Regions from separate parts of the Homo sapiens genome. Here all the other regions are linked to region 1. The links come from fine-mapping of genetic effects on gene expression. A gene starts in region 1. Each other region holds a variant in brackets. All regions are shown on one strand. Distances are from middle to middle.

What was found. PIP is the estimated chance that this variant, and not a neighbour inherited with it, causes the effect.
Region 2: its variant is the best candidate, but not a certain one, in a credible set for the expression of GOLGA1 in whole blood (TOPMed, PIP 0.78).
Region 3: its variant is the best candidate, but not a certain one, in a credible set for the expression of GOLGA1 in whole blood (TOPMed, PIP 0.51).

Annotation. Positions count from the first base shown.
Region 1 is chr9:124,937,126-124,944,059 of GRCh38, reverse strand. GOLGA1 (golgin A1) reads left to right here and starts at 2,977. Exons shown (of 23, transcript NM_002077.4): 1 at 2,977-3,089; 2 at 3,905-3,954; 3 at 5,194-5,483. The coding sequence starts at 5,349. It overlaps SCAI (suppressor of cancer cell invasion), which reads left to right. Exons shown (of 18, transcript NM_001144877.3): 18 at 1-1,452. RefSeq lists silencers at 2,543-2,602, 2,933-3,302 and enhancers at 2,384-2,884, 2,885-3,385.
Region 2 is chr9:124,837,360-124,844,293 of GRCh38, reverse strand. No RefSeq gene overlaps it. Among named protein-coding and RNA genes, the nearest start is that of WDR38, 13 kb to the left of the region's middle. RefSeq lists enhancers at 3,336-3,938, 3,939-4,542. The variant C/G (reference allele first, on the strand shown) is at 3,665.
Region 3 is chr9:124,904,072-124,911,005 of GRCh38, reverse strand. GOLGA1 (golgin A1) reads left to right here. Exons shown (of 23, transcript NM_002077.4): 12 at 2,534-2,629. Among named protein-coding and RNA genes, the nearest start is that of GOLGA1, 34 kb to the left of the region's middle. The variant T/C (reference allele first, on the strand shown) is at 3,751.

The DNA.
Region 1 (6,934 bases):
TCCAGTTGAGGTAGAAACATCTTAGATAATAGGAAAGGCAAATACAAAGTCCTAACATTTTCATAGTAGAGTTTACAAGTAAAATAACTTATCCATATAGGTTATCTTCGTTGTGTAGCACCAGTATAAATAGTGATTTCATTAATCATTGAATCAGATGAAGCAGTTATAAATCACTTTTTACTTTGTGCTAAGAATTATTGTAATTTCAGGACACTTTATTATTTCCTCTGAGCAGTTTCCATTGGAAGGTTGAGTTTCCCTTTTTTAAGTTCTAATCATCACTAAAGGTTAAGATAATCAAATAGGAGTTAAAATAAGTTATGTTTGATCTTTTTCCCTTGAAAATAATGCTGAACTTATTGTCTACATTCTGATTATTAGGCAGAAATGCACTTGTTTAAATCATAGAAGTAATTCATTTGGAGGATATAATTACTCGATTTTCTAGTGGTGTGAAATACTTTTTAACAATTGTGCTTGTCTGTAACTGAAATGTTATAGAATTTTAACACTATAGGGATTATAGAGTTATATTAGCTCTCCTCAAGAGACTGAAGCACAATATTTTTCATGTAACAATTCTTATCCAAGTGCTGCTAATCTGTCGTGCAAATAATGAAGCTATTTGGTTGCCTATTTAGCTATTCACAAATCACTGTAATCTTTGAAACAATCTTGTCGTTCATTTGTATTAATATTTGGATATTGTGAGTTAATACTTTAGAAAAAAATCCATCAACTCAGCCCCGTTAGCAAAACTGTTTGGATTCATAGTTTTTATATGTGTTAACAGTAGAATAAATTTTGAAGGGGCTATTTACTACCAATGACTAAGGGGAAAATTATACTGTCACTATCATTTGACTTGAACATTTGTGGTATTGTAAAAGTCTTGTCAGTTGTGTTCTAAATTGCTTAAGCCATACGTTCTCTTAAACAGGATGTTTTTTTCTTCCTTTCCAGCAGCCTTTTTCTTCTTTGTCTGTTATGGTTAATACTCCATAGATTTTAGAAATTGAGAAGTTCTTGAAACATTTTATTTTCTTGAGTTCATCACTTTTGACTCTTGTATGAGATGTGATTTGTCATAAAAGATAGCCTTCCACTACTTCACTAAATGAATTTCAGAGTAAACACTGTGATTCTGCAGAGCGGATTCAGTAGGCTTTCCAATGTTTTCTCCTGCTATACAGTGCCTACCACCTTGAGGGCACTTCAGTACTAGAGGATGAAAACTGAAACGTTGTTTTGATGTTTATTGAATAACGAGATTAGAGAATATTTGATTTTTGTTGTCAGTGTATTAAAGAAATTTTCACATTGATAAATGTTCTCTAGGAATGTGTCTACATTCATCAGGTGTGAACTCTTGTACATGAATTTTGTACCTTGAATCCACATATATATTAAGTGTATCATCAATATAAAAATAAACATTATTTGCTTAAAGTTTTTGGTACTTTTTCGGTATTGACAGCTGAACTGTTAGGGTTTGCTTCATTCAAATATCTCAGAGGCTTTGAACTATCTTGGGGTTGATGCTTCTTGTTAGTTTGTCAATGTTTGAATCCTGGTTTTGGTTTTTTCCCTGCCCTGCTCCTGCAGGTCAGAACTGGAACACGCGAGGGAAGGGACTGTTGAAGAATTGGGTGGAATCTGCTTATTCTTGGGCTTGTGTTGAGTCTGGGGATGGAACCAGAGTTCCTTAAGGTGGAATGGCTGGCTTGGCATTGACGAGTTCAGGGACCTGACTTAGGGTACTGATTTGGACCGTGACTTTTTGTTTGAGATAGAGTTTCGCTCTTGTTGCCCAGGCTGGAGTGCAATGGCGCGATCTTGACTCACTGCAACCTACACCTCCCGGGTTCAAGCGATTATCCTGCCTCAGCCTCCCAAGTAATTGGGATTACAGGCATGGGCCACCATGCCCGGCTAATTTTGTATTTTTAGTAGAGACGAGGTTTCGCTATGTTAGGCTGGTCTGAACTCCTGACCTCGGGTGAACCACCCGCCTCGGCTTCTCAAAGTGTGGGGATTACAGGAGTGAGCCACCGCGCCCGGCCTGGACTGTGACTTGGAACAAGATAGTTTTTCCTCTTTTGTTTATTTTCCTACTGCCTGCATGATTGCTATTTATTTAAAGAGACGGAGTCTCGCCACGGTGCCCAGGCTGGTCTGGAAGCCCTGGTCTCAAGAGATCCTCCCACCTCGGTCTTCCGAGTAGCTGGGACCACAGAAGCGCGCGCCGTGCACTTTTGATGTTTTCAACTTCCTTCCTAAGCAGAAAGGAGACGGCCCAGCAGCGGATGGTGAAGCTAATCCAATATAGTGAGCTGCCACCAGCGTTTTTAAGTGCATTACATAGTAAGAACGTGGTTCTGCTGGACGTTATGTACTCGGTTGCGATATAAAACGCATCATCTACAGTAGGTGACAGGCGCCAAAGTCTAAAAACTGGTCTCAAGGTGTAAGGTCCCAGGACTAGTTTCTGGAGCTACTGGCTTGTGAGTGAAGCTGGAGGCGCAGACTTCCCGGGTCACACGGTGGCAAGGCAGCTGCCTAGGGTGCGGCGGGACCGGGCGGCGCGGGGGGGCGCCTGGCCAAGCAGTGCAGCCCCGGCCGGGTTTGTAGCCAGCACAGCACAGCGGGGCCTGTGGCACCGACTGGGTTCTTTTACTTTTGACACGAAGCCCCTCCCACTTACCACGCTCTGCACGCGCCCCTGTTAAAATAGAAAAAGACCGAGAGGCCTCGGAGACTCAGTCATCATCTGTGGCTCTGGCCGCTCGCTGACGTGGCGAACTGGGCTGAGGGAGCGCCCGGCTGGGCACCCGAGAACTCCAGCCGTTCCGGCCCAGTCGCCGCTCAGAGGTGGTAACAGTAGCCGCCAAGGCCGCGCACGGGCGCATGCGCGCGTCGGACCAACCCCCTCCCCCCACCGCGCAGTCACTTCCGGCGCGCTGGGAGACGTGCGGTTCCGGGTCGCTGCTCGGCTCGCCGGCTGGGCGGTGGGGGTTGGTGACGCGGGCCGGGGCTCACGAGAGGCCCGGGAGGCGGGGCTTTGCTGGCTTCCCAGAGAGAGGCAGGTGCGCGGGCCAGGACTCCGGGAATGCGAGCAGGCCCCTTATTCTCCCAGTGGCCTCGGTCTGTCCCCACAGCGGCCCGGTCAGGGTTGCCCGAGCCCCAAGGCGGGGGGCGGCACCGGGGTGCTGAAAGGGTGAGAGTGGGGGCGGAGGCGGGCTGCCCCGGCCTGGGAGTCTGGAGCCTAGGGTTCCGGGATTCCTCCCTGCGCGACCTTGGACAAGTCGCTCCTCCTCTCTAGGGCTCAGTTTCCTTGCTGTCAAATGGGAGAGATGTTGGATCCTTCCTTTCTTTGACAGTCCAAAGCACGGGCGGGGCTGGAGGTAGCCTGAGGGAGTGAGATCCAAACTGCCGTGGCAGGCACCTGCCTGCCTCCCTGGGGGTTAGACATCTGTCTTTACCCAATTTTGCCTTGCTTTTTGTCAGTGCACATCCGTGACCAGACGCCCAGGGTCTGGCCGGGTAAACAGTATGTGAGTGTAGTAATCAACTGAGAAATAAATACTGGCTCCAGGAAAACTTAACCTCATTCAAATTGTTTTGCTCAGGGCTCCCAGGGAGAAGTGAATTTAGGCACCCGCTGCGGTGATCAATTCTGTTCTATGCGCTTGTAAGTGAAGCTCTTAGGCAAAAAACAATTTCATAGGAGATCAGGGTTAGGGAGGGTATCCCATTGAGAGTTGTGACAGGTTTTCTTACCCCCTTTAATCCTTCTTCTGCCCCTCCTCTTCCTTCACTTCTTCCCCCTATCCCCACCCAACATTTTGGCCATACACTTGAAAAGAAATACCCAATGCATTTTATCTTTGTCTTCATGCAGGACAGAATGCTTTGACCTCCAAGCTGTTTTAAATCTAGTAGATAAGCCAGGTGAGTAAGTGGTTTACACACATTGAAAGTAAAGTTTCTGAAGAATTGTACAGCCTTAATGGAGGATCTGAAGTGGTAAGATGGCATTTGTGTATCTCAGAGCAGAGCTTAGGTATCCTCCACAAAACATGGAAAGTTAAGGTTGGAACCAGAATATTAGTGTTTTATACACCATTAGGAGGAAAAGGTTTTTGAATCTTACTTTGAATATCATGTCAAACATTCTTAAGAAAAGAAACTGTGAGGCCGGGCGCAGTGGCTTATGCCTGTAATCCCAGCACTTTGGGAGGCCAATGCAGGTGGATCATCTGAGGTCAAGAGTTTGAGACCAGCCTGACCAACACGGAGAAACCTCGTCTCTACTAAAAATATAAAATAAGCCGGGCATAGTGGCGCATTCCTGTAATCCCAGCTACTCGGGAGGCTGAGGCAGGAGAATCGCTTGAACCCAGGAGGTGGAGGTTGCGGTGAGCCGAGATAGTGCCATTGCATTCCAGCTTAGGCAACAAGAGCGAAACTCCATCTCAAAAAAAAAAAAAAAAAAAAAAAAAAAAAGAAAGAAAGAAAATAAACTCATTGGAGGTAATTTTATCAAACTCAAAACCACACAGCGTCTCTAGAAAATGTTCAAGGATATCAGATACTTATATAATAGAGTTGTCTGGTGTGTCTTCTTTTTTCTGTTACCAGCTTTTCCTATTGGACAGTTGATTGCAAACCATCCTGAAACAGTAGGATATTACACCTTTTACATATTGAATTACATATTGAATATTGAATTACATATGAATTGAATTACATGCATTTTTGTCTTCAACTTAAAGAACACTAAACTGTAGTTAAGCTTATTGGAGGAAGGATTTGAAATCATTAAGTCATGAATATATGATGTTGATGTCTGCTCTGGGACATTTTACCAAGTGTGTTATATGTCATAGCCAACATGTAATTAAAAAAAAAAAACGTAGAGATTTGTGAATCAGAGTCCTCTGTTCAAATACCAGCCCTTCCACTTAGCCACACAATCTTTGGTAGGTTACTTCATCTTCTTGAGACTGGGTTTCTTCATCTGTATATGCATATGAAGCACCTGAGTGCTTTTTAAATGTTTAGTAATTGTGTTCTATAAGTGTACATGTAAGTTATGAAACTTAGTTTTGAAATCTAAAACTTAACAACTCAGATGCGAAATCTTTCCAATGTTTAACTTTTGAACTGTCTCTTTCATCTGATTTGTAGATCCTGTGTTGCCATAAGCCCTTGGCCCACATTTAAGTGGGAATGCAGCTAGCTTGGATGTCTGAAACTTTGTAGGCGCCTCTGTCTGAATCCTGAACACAGGCACCAGGACTACTGAGAGCTCGTCATCTGTGCAGGATAGCCACACAGCAAACATGTTTGCAAAACTGAAGAAGAAAATTGCAGAAGAGACTGCTGTTGCTCAGAGGCCAGGAGGTGCTACTAGGATCCCACGGTCTGTGAGCAAGGAATCAGTTGCCTCAATGGGAGCTGACTCAGGAGATGACTTTGTAAGTACCTTTACTTAAGAAATAAAGATACTTTTGCAGGGTATTCTTCCAATAAATATTTTAAATTGCTTGATTATTTCATACCTTTCATGGTTTATAGCTGTACAAGAGCCTGTACATCTGATTCTTCTTACTCTGAGGTACCTTTTTGTTAATGTTTGGTTTGTAAATGTTAAGGTACTCTATATTTTTTTCCTTATTTTTCTGTGAGTTCCTCTCCATATTCTCTCCAGTGTCCTCTTGTACTGTTTTTCCGTCTATATACCTTATACATCTTCTTTTGCATTTCATTTCTGAAAATGTCTGGGCCTGTTTTCATTGCAGACATATATACTTATATAACAACTAAGTCATTGCTGCTTAACAAGGTCTCTGAGTTGTGGTATGGGGTTAGCAAGAGTGCATTGTTGTATTGGGACGATTGTTGGAAAGATGGCCCCAGTGATTACAGTATGTTGCTTTTTTTCTTTTTTCTTTCTTTTTTTTTTTTTTTTGAGATGGATTCTCGCTCTGTAGCCCAAAGTGGAGTGCAGTGGCCTGATCTTGGTTCACCACAACCTCTGCCTCTGGGGCTCAAGCAATTCTCGTGCCTCAGCCTCCCGAGTAGCTGGGACTACAGGTGTGTTCCACCATGCCTGGCTAATTTTTTGTATTTTAGTAGAGACAGGTTTTTACCATGTTGCCCAGGGTGGTCTCAAACTCCTGAGCTCAGGCGATCCGCCCACCTTGGCCTCCCAAAGTGCTGGGATTACAGGCGTGAGCCACCATGCCCAGCCTACAATATGTTTCTTATTAGTAAAATACATTTGTGACTATAAGATTTCAAAAAATGAAGATGTTGCTATATGAGGGAAATGTCATGCTTAAAAAATAAAGTGTGGCTTTTGCATATGACAGGATCCTCTTAAGTTAGATAAATTTCTTTTCTCTTCTTTTTTTTTTTTTTGAGACAGAGTCTCACTCTGTCAGCCAGGCCGGAGTGCAGTGGCATGATCTCAGCTCATTGCATCCTCCACCTCCCGGGTTCAAGCAGTTCTCCTGCCTCAGCCTCCCAAGTAGCTGGGACTGCAGGTGCCCACGACCACACCCGGCTAATTTTTTTTTGTTTTTAGTTTATTGTTTTTGAGATAGGGTCTCGCTCTGTCACCTAGGGTGGAGTGCAGCAGCACAATCTCGGCTCACTGCAACCTCCATCTCCCGGGTTCAGGCGATTCTCCTGCCTCAGCCTCCTGAGTAGCTTGGGACTACAGGCACCCGCCACCACGTCCAGCTAATTTTTGTATTTTTAGTAGAGACAGAGTTTCACTGTGTTGGCCAGGCTGGTCTGGAACTCCTGACCTCGTGATCCTCCCGCGTCGGTCTCCCAAAGTGCTAGGATTACAGGGGTGAGCCACCACACTTGGCAATAAATTTCTTTAAAACTCATTTATAATGCTGGATATATATATAAA
Region 2 (6,934 bases), 100 kb after region 1:
AGTGTAATGGCACGATCTCAGCTCATTGCAACCTCCACCTCCCAGGTTGAAGCGATTCTCCTGCCTCAGCCTCCTGAGTAGCTGGGATTACAGGCACACACCACCACGCCTGGCTAATTTTCATATTTTTAGTAGAGACGGGGTTTCACCATGTTGGCCAGGCTGGTCTCGAACTCCTGACCTCAGGTGATCTGCCCGACCTTGGCATCCCGAAGTGCTGGGATTACAGGCATGAGCAACAGCCCCCGGGCCATCTCTGGGCTGTTCTGTGTGGCGTCAGATTCATACCCTTCACTCTGGCTCTCTTGGAATACGATTTGCCAGATCTAGAAACTCAGCCTTATTTATCTTACCGTATTTTTTAATACGTGTTTTTCTAAGACAGTCATTCTGTTTGGATAGCAAAGTGACCTAGACGTCAGAAGGAACCTGAGAAGCCCAGGGGGTTTGACCACCACCCACTGTCCCCAGCGTGGGCCCACAGCCCCAGCCTGCATTCCCAGTTCTCAAGTTCAGGGACTCACACCCACGGGTCTCCTCCGGCCTCTCCCACATTCTGGTGAGTCTTACAGAGGAGAACTCTCTGAGGCTCTGAGCTGAGCACCAGTGGAAGGTCTTGAACACGCCACCCTGTGGATGTCAGGCCCAGGTCTGGGGTGGATCGAGGGTGCAGGGCAGGGTAGGGGGCAGCCAGCCAGTCAGGGCCTCTGTGACAGGCCTGTCCAGCTTGTGGGGGCAGGGCCACAACCCAGCTAGAGAGGATTTTTATGCTGTTTCATTTATTTAATTTTTAAGCTCTGTCACCCAGGCTGGATGTCACCTCTGCCTCCCGAGTTCAAGTGATTCTCCTGCCTCAGCCTCCCAAGGAGCTGGGATTACAGGGGTCCGCCACCATGCCCAGGTAATTTTTGTATTTTTAATAGAGGTGGGGTTTCACCATGTTGGCCAGGCTGGTCTCAAACTCCTGACCTCAGGTGATCCAACTGCCTCGGCCTTCCAAAGTGCTGGAATTACAGGCGTGAGCCACCGTGCCCGGCCAATTTTTTTTTTTTTTTTTTGAGACGGAGTCTCGCTCTGTTGGCAGGCTGGAGTGCAATGGTGCGATCTTGGATCACTGCAACCTCTGCCTCCCAGGTTCAAGCGATTCTCCTGCCTCAGCCTGCCCAGTAGCTGGGACTACAGGCACGTGCCACCACGCCCAGGTAATTTTTGTATTTTTAGTAGAGACGGGGTTTCACCATGTTGGCCAGGACTGTCTCGATCTCCTGACTTCATGATCTGCCCACCTCGGCCTCCCAAAGTGTTGGGATTACAGGCATGAGCCATGGTGCGATCTTGGCTCACTGCAACCTCTGCCTCCCGGCTTCAAGCGATTCCCCTGCCTCAGCCTCTCGTGTAGCTGGGATTACAGGCGCGTGCCACCACGCCCAGCTAATTTTTGTATTTTTAGTAGAGACAGGGTTTCACCATGTTGGCCAGGATGGTCTCGATCTCCTGACCTTGTGATCTGCCCATTTTGGCCTCCCAAAGTGCTGGGATTACAGGAATGAGCCCCTGGGCCTGCCCCCAATTTTTAAAATTCTTAAATTGTGCCACTGCACTCCTGCCTGGGCCACAGAGGGAGACTCTGCCTCAAAAAAAAAAAAAAAAATTCTTAAACAGTCTTGGACACAACAATATTAAAGCATAAACCAGGCGTGGTGGCTCACGCCTGTAATCTCAGCACTTTGGGAGGCTGAGGCAGGTGGATTACATGAGGCCAAGAGTTCGAGTCCAGCCTGGCCAATATGGTGAAACCCTGTCTCTACTAAAAATACAAAAATTAGCTAAGTGTGGTGGCGCATGCCTGTCATCCCAGCTACTCAGGAGGCTACGGCAGAAGAATCGCTTGAACCTGGAAGGCAGAGGTTGCAGTGAGCTGAGATCGCACCACTGCACTCCAGCATGGGCAACAGAATGAGACTCCATCTCAAAATAAAAATAAAAGTAAAAATAAAAATAAAAAACAAAGGGCACTCACCACCATAGGAAAGGTAAGAAACAAAAGCAAATGGGTAATTAACTAATCAGAATAAAACACAAAGGGCACATGTGTCTGCTCCCTGTCTTCTTCCACCAACTTCGCTCTTTTAAAGGAGACTGTGCACAGTTTGGGGGGGGGTGTGTCCTTCTAACAGCTTCTCCACTGAACCCCATTTTCCCTCAGTGAAGTGGTGCTTGGTCCCTGAGAAGGGAGGTGTTGCCCAGTTAAATGAGACCAAACCAGTGAGTGCCTGGCCCGGGGCCTTGAACATAGCTGGTGCTCAGAAAGTGGCTTCCTGTCCCGGGTGAGTAGCAGGCCTGTGGTGTCTGTGATGGTAGCAGAAGGCCTGCGTCCTGGAGGCCTACGCCGACCTCCTGGGGCTCTAGGGGGACCCGACCCCCCCCGGAAAGCAGCCCAGGAAGGCAGATCATCTGGGAGCTGAGCCATGAGATGTGGAACTTGGAGTGGGTGTTGGCTCATGACCGTTCTCCCTTATCCCTTGATCCTCTGGACTGGTGGCCCACCTGGGACCCTGAAATGGGGCTCCTGGAATTCCTCTCCTCCCTGGAGCCTGGAGAAGATGCTTGGCCCCAGGGTGGGGTGGAGGAGAGGAGAGAGGACGCGGGTATAGGCGCTAGGGGTGAGGGGAGGGGCAGAAGGTGGTGCCTTCCCCCGCCCCCCATTCTTCCCTTGCTCCTGCCCTCCACCCATTGCCTTCCATCTACATCCCTCCCTGTTCCCTCCCTCCCGTCCTTGCCGGATCACGCCCCTCAACCCCTCTGGGCCCCCTGACCTCTGCAGGGCCCCAGAGAGCTCAGGGAAGAGCAAGGGACCCTCTTTCCGCAATCAGGGAGGTCTTCTGGGAGGAGACAATGGGCTTCCAGGCCTCTGGAGTTAAGGAAGTATTTGCCAGGTGCTAAGCGGAAAAGAAGATTCTGAGAGGCAGAAACGGCATCTATAAAGGCCCCAGGGTAAAGCTGCAGAGCCTGTTTCTGAAGCAGCCAGGAATCGGGTGTGGTGGGCACTGGGTCACCTGGGGGACACCTGGGGAAAATAAGAATTAGAGACTTGGGGGAGGCGTGGGGAATGGAGGCTTGGAATGCCTAGCTAAGGGGTTTAGATGGCATTCTGGCCATGGTTTTCAAAGTAGGTGTCATGGAACCCTGACGGTGCCAAGGGTGGCCTCAGAGCTACCTGGTGCAGGGGGGTCGGGGGGTGAAATGTGGAGAAAGAGGAGACGCAGGGCTGGAATTCTGGGCCTCTGGCCCCCCTCCAGCCAGAATGACTCCAATCTCACGCGAGTTCTGAACTGTGCTGTCACAAGCATTGGGGGAGCCGTGGTGAGCAACAGGGGCCTTCAGCAGCAGCAAGGGACAGCCCAAATGGCCAAATGGAGCTTTAGGAAGCCAATGGAACTTCAGGGGTCAAGTGGCCCCCCAGCCACCTCTGCTTAGGTTCTCTGGCCTGACCATTTCTTCCCAGGCCACCAGGAGGTAATAATGATAATAATTAATAATAACCTGACCATCACAGCGCCACCAGCTGGGGAACTCGAGAATCCAGGAGAGGAAGAGACGCCAAACGAGGGTCACCAGCCAGTTCGGTGGCACAGCTGGGATACGGACCCAGAATCAGCTCCCC[C/G]ATGAGGGCCTGGCCCCCCTCGGGCAGCCTGGAGCAGTTGCTGCAGGATCCCATCCCTGGCTGGGGCCTCGTGCCGCCAGCAGCCCCCTCCGCCCACCTGCCCTCCCAGCTGTCCCAGTCACACCCGGCACCCATGTGCCCTGTGGAAATCTGACCAGCCTCGCAGCGCCCTCCAAGGAGACAGCTGACGGATGGGGCTTGGGAGAGTGGGGGTCATGTGGGAAGCAGAGCTCAGGCCAGAAAGCGGGAGCCGCCCTGGCCGGGCAGGGAGACACTGGCAGTTTCTGCTTGCCGTGTGACCTTGAGCTCCTTGCTGAGCCTCTCAGGGCTGGCAAGGGCTGCTCTGAGCCACCTGGAGCTGGGGCTAAGTACAGGCAACTTGTGGGTTCCCGGGTCCATGGGCTCACACCTGGAACTTGGCACCGGCCTCCATTGGGCACCCCCCAGACCCCCACCCTGTGGGCCAGAATGATGGGATCTGACTGGCTGTGTGAGTCCAGGCTAATGTATCGGCTTGTCTGGGCCTCAGCTTCCTCATCACAAAGTTGAAAGTGTTGGCAGCTGGGGTGCCGTGCAGTAGCCCGGCCCCTCCATTCAGAAGCTTGTCTCAGCAGCCCCACACCTCCCCCAGGCCCTGAAATGCTTCAATGGCCATTTTGTATCAGGCCAGGGAACTGATGTTTGCTCAGCTGCCCCCACCCCTGAGACTTCATGATAATGGACTCCTGCCAGCCCAGGGCCCCTGTGTCTGGGGGTAGGGGTGGGTAGGAAGCCCTCCTCGGCCTGTCTGGGGCATTGCCCTTCCCTTCCTGACCAGTAGGGGTAGGAGGAACATCGAGTCATTTCCTCTCCCATTTCTTTCCAGAAGTTCAGGCCTAAATCTCAGCCTTCCACTGCCCGCAGCTGTGCCGTTCTATGCAAGTCTCCATTGCGCACTCTGCGAGGGCTTAGCATCCATCCAGACCTGGGTTCAAATCCCCACTTGAGGCTGGGTGCAGTGGCTCATGCCCACAATCCGAGCACTCTAGGAGACCAAGGCAGGAGGACTGCTTAGAAGCCAGGAGTTCAAGACCAACCTGGGCAACATAGCAAGCACCCATCTCCACAAAAAATAAAAGATAAACATTTAGCAGGGGCCAGGCACGGTGGCTCATGCCTGTAATCCCAGTACTTTGGGAGGCCGAGACGGGCAGATCACTTGAGGTCAGGAGTTCAAGACCAGCCTGGCCAACATGGTGAAACCCTGTCTCTACTAAAAATACAAAAATTAGTTGGGCATGGTGGCAGGCACCTGCAATCCCAGCTACTCGGGAGGCTGAGGCAGGAGAATTGCTTGAACCCAGTGAGAGGTGACAGCGTGCTGGCAGTCCTCACAGCCCTCACTCGCTCTCGGTGCCTCCTCTGCCTGGGCTCCCACTTTGGCGGCACTTGAGGAGCCCTTTAGCCCACTGCTGCACTGTGGAAGCCCCTTTCTGGGCTGGCCAAGGCCAGAGCCGGCTCCCTCAGCTTGCAGGGAGGTGTGGAGGGAGAGGCGCGAGCGGGGAACCGGGGCTGCGCGCGGCGCTTGCGGGCCAGCTGGAGTTCCGGATGGGTGTGGGCTTGGCGGGCGGGCTTGGCGGATGCACTCGGAGCAGCCGGCCGGCCCCACCGGCCCCGGGCCAGCGGCTGCAGAGGGTGTACTGGGTCCCCCAGCAGTGCCAGCCCACCAGCGCTGCGCTCGATTTCTCACCGGGCCTTAGCTGCCTTCCCGCGGGGCAGGGCTCGGGACCTGCAGCCCGCCATGCCTGAGCCTCCCACCGCCTCCATGGGCTCCTGCGCCGCCCAAGCCTCCCCGATGAGCGCCGCCCCCTCGCTCCACGGCGCCCAGTCCCATCGACCACCGAAGGGCTGAGGAGTGCGGGCGCACCGCGCGGGACTGGCAGGCAGCTCCACCTGCAGCCCTGGTGCGGGATCCACTGGGTGAAGCCAGCTGGGCTCCCGAGTCTGGTGGAGACGTACAGAACCTTTATGTCTAGCTCAGGGATTGTAAATACACCAATCAGCACCCCGTGTCTAGCTCAGGGTCTGTGAATGCACCAATCGACACTGTATCTAGCTACTCTGGTGGGGCCTTGGAGAACCTTTATGTCTAGCTCAGGGATTGTAAATACACCAATGGGCACTCTGTATCTAGCTCAAGGTTTGTAAACACACCAATCAGCACCCTGTGTCTAGCTCAGGGTTTGTGAATGCACCAATCGACACTATGTATCTAGCTGCTCTGGTGGGGCCTTGGAGAACCTTTGTATCCATACTCTGTATCTAACTAATCTGATGGGGACGTGGAGAACCTTTATGTCTAGCTCAGGGATTGTAAACGCACCAATCAGCACCCTGTCAAAACAGACCACTGGGCTCTACCAATCAGCAGGACGTGGGTGGGGCCAGATAAGAGAATAAAAGCAGGCTGCCCGAACCAGCAGTAGCAACCCTTTGGGTCCCCTTCTGCACTGTGGAAGCTTTGTTCTTTTGCTCTTTACAATATATCTTGCTACTACTCAGTTTTTGGGTCCGCACTGCTTTTATAAGCTGTAACACTCACCGTGAAGACCTGCAGCTTTGCTCCTGAGCCCAGCGAGACCATGAGCCCACGGGGAGGAATGAACAACTCCAGACGTGCTGCCTTAAAAGTTGTAACATTCACCATGAAGGTCTGTAGCTTCACTCCCGAGCCAGCGAGACCACGAACCCACCAGAAGGAAGAAACTCCGAACACATTTGAACATCAGAAGGAACAAACTCCAGACGCGCTGCCTTAAGAGCTGTAACACTCACTGCGAGGGTGCGCAGCTTCATTCTTGAAGTCAGTGAGACCAAGAACCCACCAATTCCGGACACACCAGGAGGTGGAGGTTAAACTGAGCTGAGATTGTGCCATTGCACTCCAGCCTGGATAACAAGAGTGAAACTCTTAAAATAATACATATATGTATATGTATACGTATATATGTATGTATATGCACAAATTAAACTTGTCATTATAAAATGTTTCTTGTTGTTGTTCTCATGCTATATCTTTTCCCATCCTTTTCTTGGACACCTCTAATAACATACCCTTTTATGTTGACCTTTCTGTATCATTTTGTTTCAATGTGTCTCAATTGAATGATTTATCTAGTTTGTTCACACTTACTGATTTACTTGGTTTTAAAAAATCTACCTTTTGTGCCTTTTTTCTTGCTTTTTATACATTTCCTTGTCTCTCGTTTCTTTAAATTTTGTTTACTTATT
Region 3 (6,934 bases), 33 kb after region 1:
CATTTTGCCTCTTCTGCTTACCAGCTTTGACTTGGAGCAGCAGTTCCCAACCGTTTTGGCACCAGGGACTGGTTTCGTGGAAGACAGTTTTTCCACAGATGGGGTCAGGTTGGGTCGGGTGAGGGGGTGGTTTCAGAATAAAACTGTTCCACCTCAGATCATCATCGTCCCTAGATTCTCATAAGGAGTGTGCAACCTGGATCCCTCACTTGCACAGTTCACAATAGGGTTCATGCTCCTATGAAAATCTAACACCACCACTGATGTGACTGGAGGCAGATCTTAGGTGGTAGTGCTTACTCACCACTCACCTCCTGCTGTGCGGCCTGGTTCCTAACAGACTGCAAGGTCTGTGGCCCAAGGGTTGGGGACCCCTGACTTAGAGCAAGTAATTTAATCTCTTTGTGTTTGCTTCCTCCCCAATAAAATTGGTTTTATTATACTATTAAACTCAGAATTGTTGTTAGGGTTAAATAAGTTACAATATGTGAAGTGCTTAGAATGATAACCGGAACAGAGTAGGGTCTCAATGTATGTCAGCTGTAAACATGATCAATATTATTATTGTGCCATCATCATTATTATAATGTTTAATGTGCATAGAAATTACTTGGGAAGTTTGTTTAAAGTATATATCTCTAGGCCAGGCGTGGTGGCTCACGCCTGTAATCCCAGCACTTTGGGTAGCCGAGGCGGGCAGATCACCTGAGGTCAGGAGTTCAAGACCAGCCTGGCCAACATGGCAAAACCCCGCCTCTATTAAAAATACAAAAATTAGGCCAGGCGCGGTGGCTCACACCTATAATCCCAGCACTTTGGGAGGCCGAGGCGGGCGGATCACAAGATCAGGAGATCGAGACCATCCTGGCCAACATGGTGAAAGCCCGTCTCTACTAAAAATACAAAAATTAGCTGGGCGTGGTGGCACATGCCTGTAGTCCCAAGCTACTCCGGAGGCTGAGGGAGGAGAATTGCTTGAACCTGGGAGGTTGCAGTGAGCTGAGATCATGCCACTGCACTCCTGCCTGGTGACAGAGCGAGACTCTGTCTCAAAAAAATAAATAAATAAATAAATTAGCTGGGCATGGTGGCGGGTGCCTGTAATTCCAGCTACTCAGGAGGCTGAAGCAAGAGAATCACTTGAACCCAGGAGGCGGAGGTTGCAGTGAGCCAAGATCGCACCACTACTTTCCAGCCTGAGCGACAAGAGTGAAATTCCATCTCAAAAATAATAAATAAGTAAATAAAGTATATATCTCTGGCCCTACCCTCAGAAATTCTGATTTCCTTAGGCTTGGAGCAAGGCCTCAAATCTGTGCAACTAGCTGAGATTAACAACTATCTCAGTAACAGCTATCTCAGCTAAGTCTACATTTCTTTTTTTTTTTTTTTTTTTTGAGACGGAGTCTCACTCTGTTGCCCAGGCTAGAGTGCAGTGGCGTGATCTCGGCTCACTGCAACCTCTGCTTCCCGGGGTTCAAGTGATTTTCCTGCCTCAGCATCCCGAGTAGCTGGGACTACAGGTGCACACCACCACATCCAGCTAATTTTTTTGTATTTTTAGTAGAGACAGGGCTTCACCATGTTGGTCAGGCTGGTCTCGAACTTCTGACCTCGTGATCTGTCCACGTCGGCTTCCCAAAGTGCTGGGATTACAGGCGTGAACCACCGCTCCCAGCCCCATTTTTTTTTTTAAGACAGAGTCTCACTCTGTCACCCAGGCTGGAGTTCAGTGGTACAATCTCTGCTCACTGCAACTCCGCTTCCTGGGTTCAAGTAATTCTCCTGCCTCAACCTCCCAAGTAGCTGGGATTACAGGTACCCACCACCACATCCAGCTAATTTTTAAAATATTTTTAGTAGAGATGGGATTTCACCACGTTAGCCAGGCTGGTCTCGAACTCCTGACCTAAAGTGATCTGCCTGCCTCAGCCTCCCAAAGTTCTGGGATTACAGGTGTGAGCCACCACACCCGGCCTAGAATTTCTACTTTGAAAAATGTTGCTTACAGAATCAAGTTCTAACTCCTTTTTGCAACATTCAAAAGCTTCTCATGAGCTGGCCCTTTTGCCTATCTTTCTAGTCTTGTTTTTTGACCTAAACCCATCATCATTTTGGCTTCTGAGGAGTAGTAGTTCCCTCAACGTAGCAGGCTGTTCACATAGCCGTTGGTCATCCCCCTGCCTGGGAGGCTCCCTGAACCCTAACGACTTTGTGAGTTCTAAAGCTGCCTACCTGCCCTGTGGCAGGGAGTATCTCCCACCCTGTGCTTCTTCCTCTTTGTGGACACTTACTGTACTCTATTGTGTAATTTTTTATTAGTCTTTTGTTCCAGCCTCAAGGTCAAGGGACTATTTCAAATTTATCTGTGTGTACTTTATGATATGTGAATTATTTCTCAATTAGCTGAATTATTAAAAATGTATTCATGTCTCTTGTGCCTAGCACAAGTCACAATATGTTGTAGATAATCTGTAAATATTTATTCAACTGAGGAATGATAGTCTTCTTTTACTCTTCTTTCAACTTACAGAAAACACTTGCTGAGCAGAATTTGGAGGATACCAGACAACAGCTCTTGGCAGCCAGAAGCAGCCAGGCTAAGGCCATTAACACCCTGGAGACTCGGGTACTGACCTTACTCCTGGTGTTTCCTAAGTTTGGGTGGTAACCTGGCTGAATGGCAACATGGTGTGACTGAGAATCTTCTTGGTCAGAGTTTTTTCACTAGAAGGGATTATTTTTGGATCTTACCTATACAGGGATGAGTTAGTCATTTTCTTCATCCTTGTCACATTACTATGATTGAGTTATATGTTTATTTATACCCTTTTATCCCCATTGGCCTCCCTCCCATAGGATACCATTCCGTTGTGGTTCATATAGATGCTCTTTTTGTTGGGTTGTTTTAAAATATGTAGCACTGGGTTTTTAATTTCTGTAAATGATGCAGCTATGGGTATGTTTTCTCTATTACTTTTAGCTGCCTCAACTTCTGTCTGTACCCACTTCATTGTACTTTGTAGTTATCTATGTGGTAGACATCCAGATTGCTTCCTTCTTCCTGCCACCTCAGATCATGCATAAAACCTAAAGAGACTAAGTACTATAGGAGAAGATTGTTCCCAGCAAGCCTGCACCTGGCTCTCCTCCTCCAGCATGCATGAGCGTTCCTATATATGCCTTTCTGACTTTTCCAGCATTGGCATTTCCAAGCCTTTACAATTTTTGCCAGTTTACTGAGTGTGGAGTGGTATTTCATTGCTTTAATTTGCATTGCTATGGTGATTAATGAGTTTGGCCTTGTCTTCATGTGCCTGTTAATTCCTGGGGGTTTCTGCTTTTGGAATTGCCCATTCATATCCTTTCCTTATTTTCTTTGGGGGTTTCAGTCTTTTCTTATTTGGTTTGTAGGATTTCATTGTATATTCTTGTTCCTAATGCTTTATCAGTTTCAGTCCTGAGTCATTCTGTTAACTTTGTCCATGTATCCTTTGTTGAATAGACTTTCTTAAGTTCAGTGTTACCAGATTCATCACATTTTTGCTGTGGAGTTTGAAGTTCCATTTAGAAAATCTATTCCTGTTCCTAAGTCACAGAGATCTACTGTTTTTTCCCTATTAACTTTATAATTTTTCCTTCACATAATAAATCTCTAATTCACTTACAAACTGTCTTTCTGTATGGTCTTAGGTAGGGATCTAAATATGGAGAAATTCTGCATATTTCTCAAAATCATTTACTAAACAG[T/C]CTGTCCTTTCTGAATTGATTCCTCTTGCTAACTTTATCACGTATTGTTTCTGTCTGCACATGGGTTTGTCTCTGCATTCTCTGTCCATTGGTCTGATTGTCTGCTCTTGTGTAAACACTACAATGTTTTTATTACTATAGTGATATCTGTACTATATCTCAACACCCAATAAGACAAATTCTCTTTTTTTTTCAAAGGTTGACTTTAACTATTTATGGGCCTTTAAAATTTTTAAGTTTTTGAGTTACTAAAAAATTCAACTTGAATTTTTATTGGGATTGCATTAAATGTATAGGCTAATTGGGAAAAATTGTCCATTTTATAATATTAATTATTCCTTCTAACAATGTAAATATATTCCATTTATTCAGATTATTTTCTGTGTGTTTTATTAAAATTTTACATTTTTCTCAATAGATGTCTTATTTTCTTGCCTAAGTTGCTAATTCCTAGAAACTTTAGAGTTTGTGTTGATACTGTGATGGTATCTTTTTTTTCTTTTGAGACAGAGTTTTGCTCTTGTCACCCAGGCTGGAGTGCAATGGCACAATCTCGGCTCACTGCAACCTCCACCTCTCGGGTTCAAGCGATTCTCCTGCTTCAGCCTGCCGAGTAGCTGGGATTACAGGTGTCCAGCATCACGCCCAGCTAATTTTTTTATATTTTTAGTAGAGACAGGGTTTCATCATGTTGGCCAGGCTGGTCTCAAACTCCTGACCTCAGATGATCCGCCTGCCTTGGCCTCCCAAAGTGCTGGGTTTATAGGCGTGAGCCACCGCGCCCGGCCTGTGATGGTATCTTATTTTTAATCTTTCTTTTTTTTTGAGATAGAGTCTCACTCTGTCGCCCAGGCTGGAGTGCAGTGGCACTATCTTGGCTCACTGCAGCCTCTGCCTCCTGGGTTCCAGCGATTCTCCTGCCTCAGCCTCCCAAGTAGCTGGGATTACAGGCACGTGCCACCACGCTAAGCTAATTTTTATGTATTTAGTAGAGACAGGGTTTCACCATGTTGAGGCTGGTCTCAAACTCCTGACCTTAGGTGATCCGCCTGCCTTGGCCTCCCAAAGTGCTAGGATTATAGGCATGACCCACTGCGCCAGGCCCTTATTTATTTATTTATTTATTTATTTATTTATTTTTTGGAGACACAGTCTCACTCTATCCCCCAGGCTAGAGTGCAATAGTGCCATCTCGGCTCCCTGCAACCTCCGCCTCCCAGGTTGAAGCAATTCTTCTGCGTCAGCCTTCTGAGTAGCTGGAATTACAGGCACGTGCCACCACGCCCGACTAATTTTTGTATTTTTAGCAGAGACGGGGTTTTGTCATGTTGGCCAGGCTGGTCTCGAACTCCTGACCTCAGCCTCGGCCTCCCAAAGTGCTGGAATTACAGGCACGAGCCACCACACCCGAACTTTATTTTTAATCATATTTATAATTGGTTATTTCTGGTTATTCTAGAGAACTGCCATTTTTTAAAGTTGATCTTGGATATCACACCCCTGCTGAACTTTCTTACTCTACTACTGTGTGATTTTTTTGTTGTTTTTCTTAGGTAGATAATCATATTATCTATGAAAAAATGACAACTTTATCTTACTCCTTCCAATCTTCCCACCTCTTATTCCATTTTCTGTTCATATAGCATTAAAGACCTCCAGACTGAGTGAAGCAATAAAAGGGTTAGTGGGAATCTTTGTTTTGTTCCCAGTCTTAAAGGAAATATGCCTAAAGTTTCATTATTTGGTGTAACATTTGCAGGTTTTTGGTATGTATGTATTTATTTATTTATTTATTTGAGGCAGAGTCTCACTCTCATCCAGGCTGGAGTGCAGTGGCATGATCTCGGCTCACTGCAACCTCCGCTTCCCAGGTTCAAACAATTCTCCTGCCTCACCCACCCAAGTAGCTGGGTTAAAAGATGCCTGCCTCCACGCCTGGCTAATTTTTATATTTTTAGTAGAGACGGGGTTTCACTATGTTGGCCAGGCTGGTCTCAAACTCCTGACCTCAAGTGATCCACCCATCTCAGCCTCCCAAAGTACTGGGAATACAGCACCATATATTTATTTATTTATTTATTTTTATTTTATTTTATTATTATTATTTTTTGAGATGGACTCCCGCTGTATCACCCAAGCTGTAGTGTAGTGTCCTGATCTCAGCCTACCACAACCTCCGCCTCCCAGGCACAAGCGATTCTCCTGCCTCAACCTCCCAAAGAGCTGGAATTATGGGTGTGTACCACCACACCCGGCTCATTTTTTTTTTTGTATTTTTTTAATTTATTTTATTTTATTTATTTTTTTTTTTTGAGACAGAGTCTGGCTCTGTAGCCTGGGTTGGCGTCCAGTGGTGCAATCTTGGCTCACTGCTCTCTCTGCCTCCTGTGTCCTGGTTCAAGCAGTTCTCCTGCCTCAGCCTCCCAAGTAGCTGGGATTACAGGCATGTGACCATGCCCAGCTAATTTTTGTATTTTTGGTAGAGACAAGGTTTCACCATGTTGGCCAGGCTGGTCTTGAACTCCTGACCTCGTGATCCACCTGCCTCAGCATCCCAAAGTGGTAGGATTACAGGCGTGAGCCACTGCGCCCAGCCTTTTTGTATTTTTAGTGGAGACGGGGTTTCACCATGTTGGCCAGGCTGGTCTCAAACTCCTGACCTCAAGTGATCTGCCCACCTCAGCTTCCCAAAGTGCTGGGATTACAGATGTGAGTAACTGTGCTGGCCAATTTGTTTAATTTCTTGAATTGAATATTTATCTCATTTTTAAAATCTTTCTTATTTCCTGATAAATACATTTTAAACTATATTTTTCTGAAAAGACTGTTTTATTATAATTTCAATTCTGTTTCTGAATATCCTTTTTGATCAGTGTACATTGTCGTACAACCATCACCACCATCCATCTCCAAAACTTTTTCATCTTCCCAAACAGAAACTCTATACTTATTAAACAGTAACTCCCCAATTCCTCCTACCCCAGTCTGGGAACCACCATTCTATTTTCTGTCTCTTTGAGTTTGGACACTCTAGATACCTCCTGTTGGTGGAATCATACAATGTTTGTCCTTTTGTGTCTGGCTTATTTGACTTAGTATATACATCTTCAGTGTTCATCTATGTTGTAGCATATGTCAGACTTTCATTCCTTTTTTTTTTTTAACAGAATTTTTTTTTTTTTTA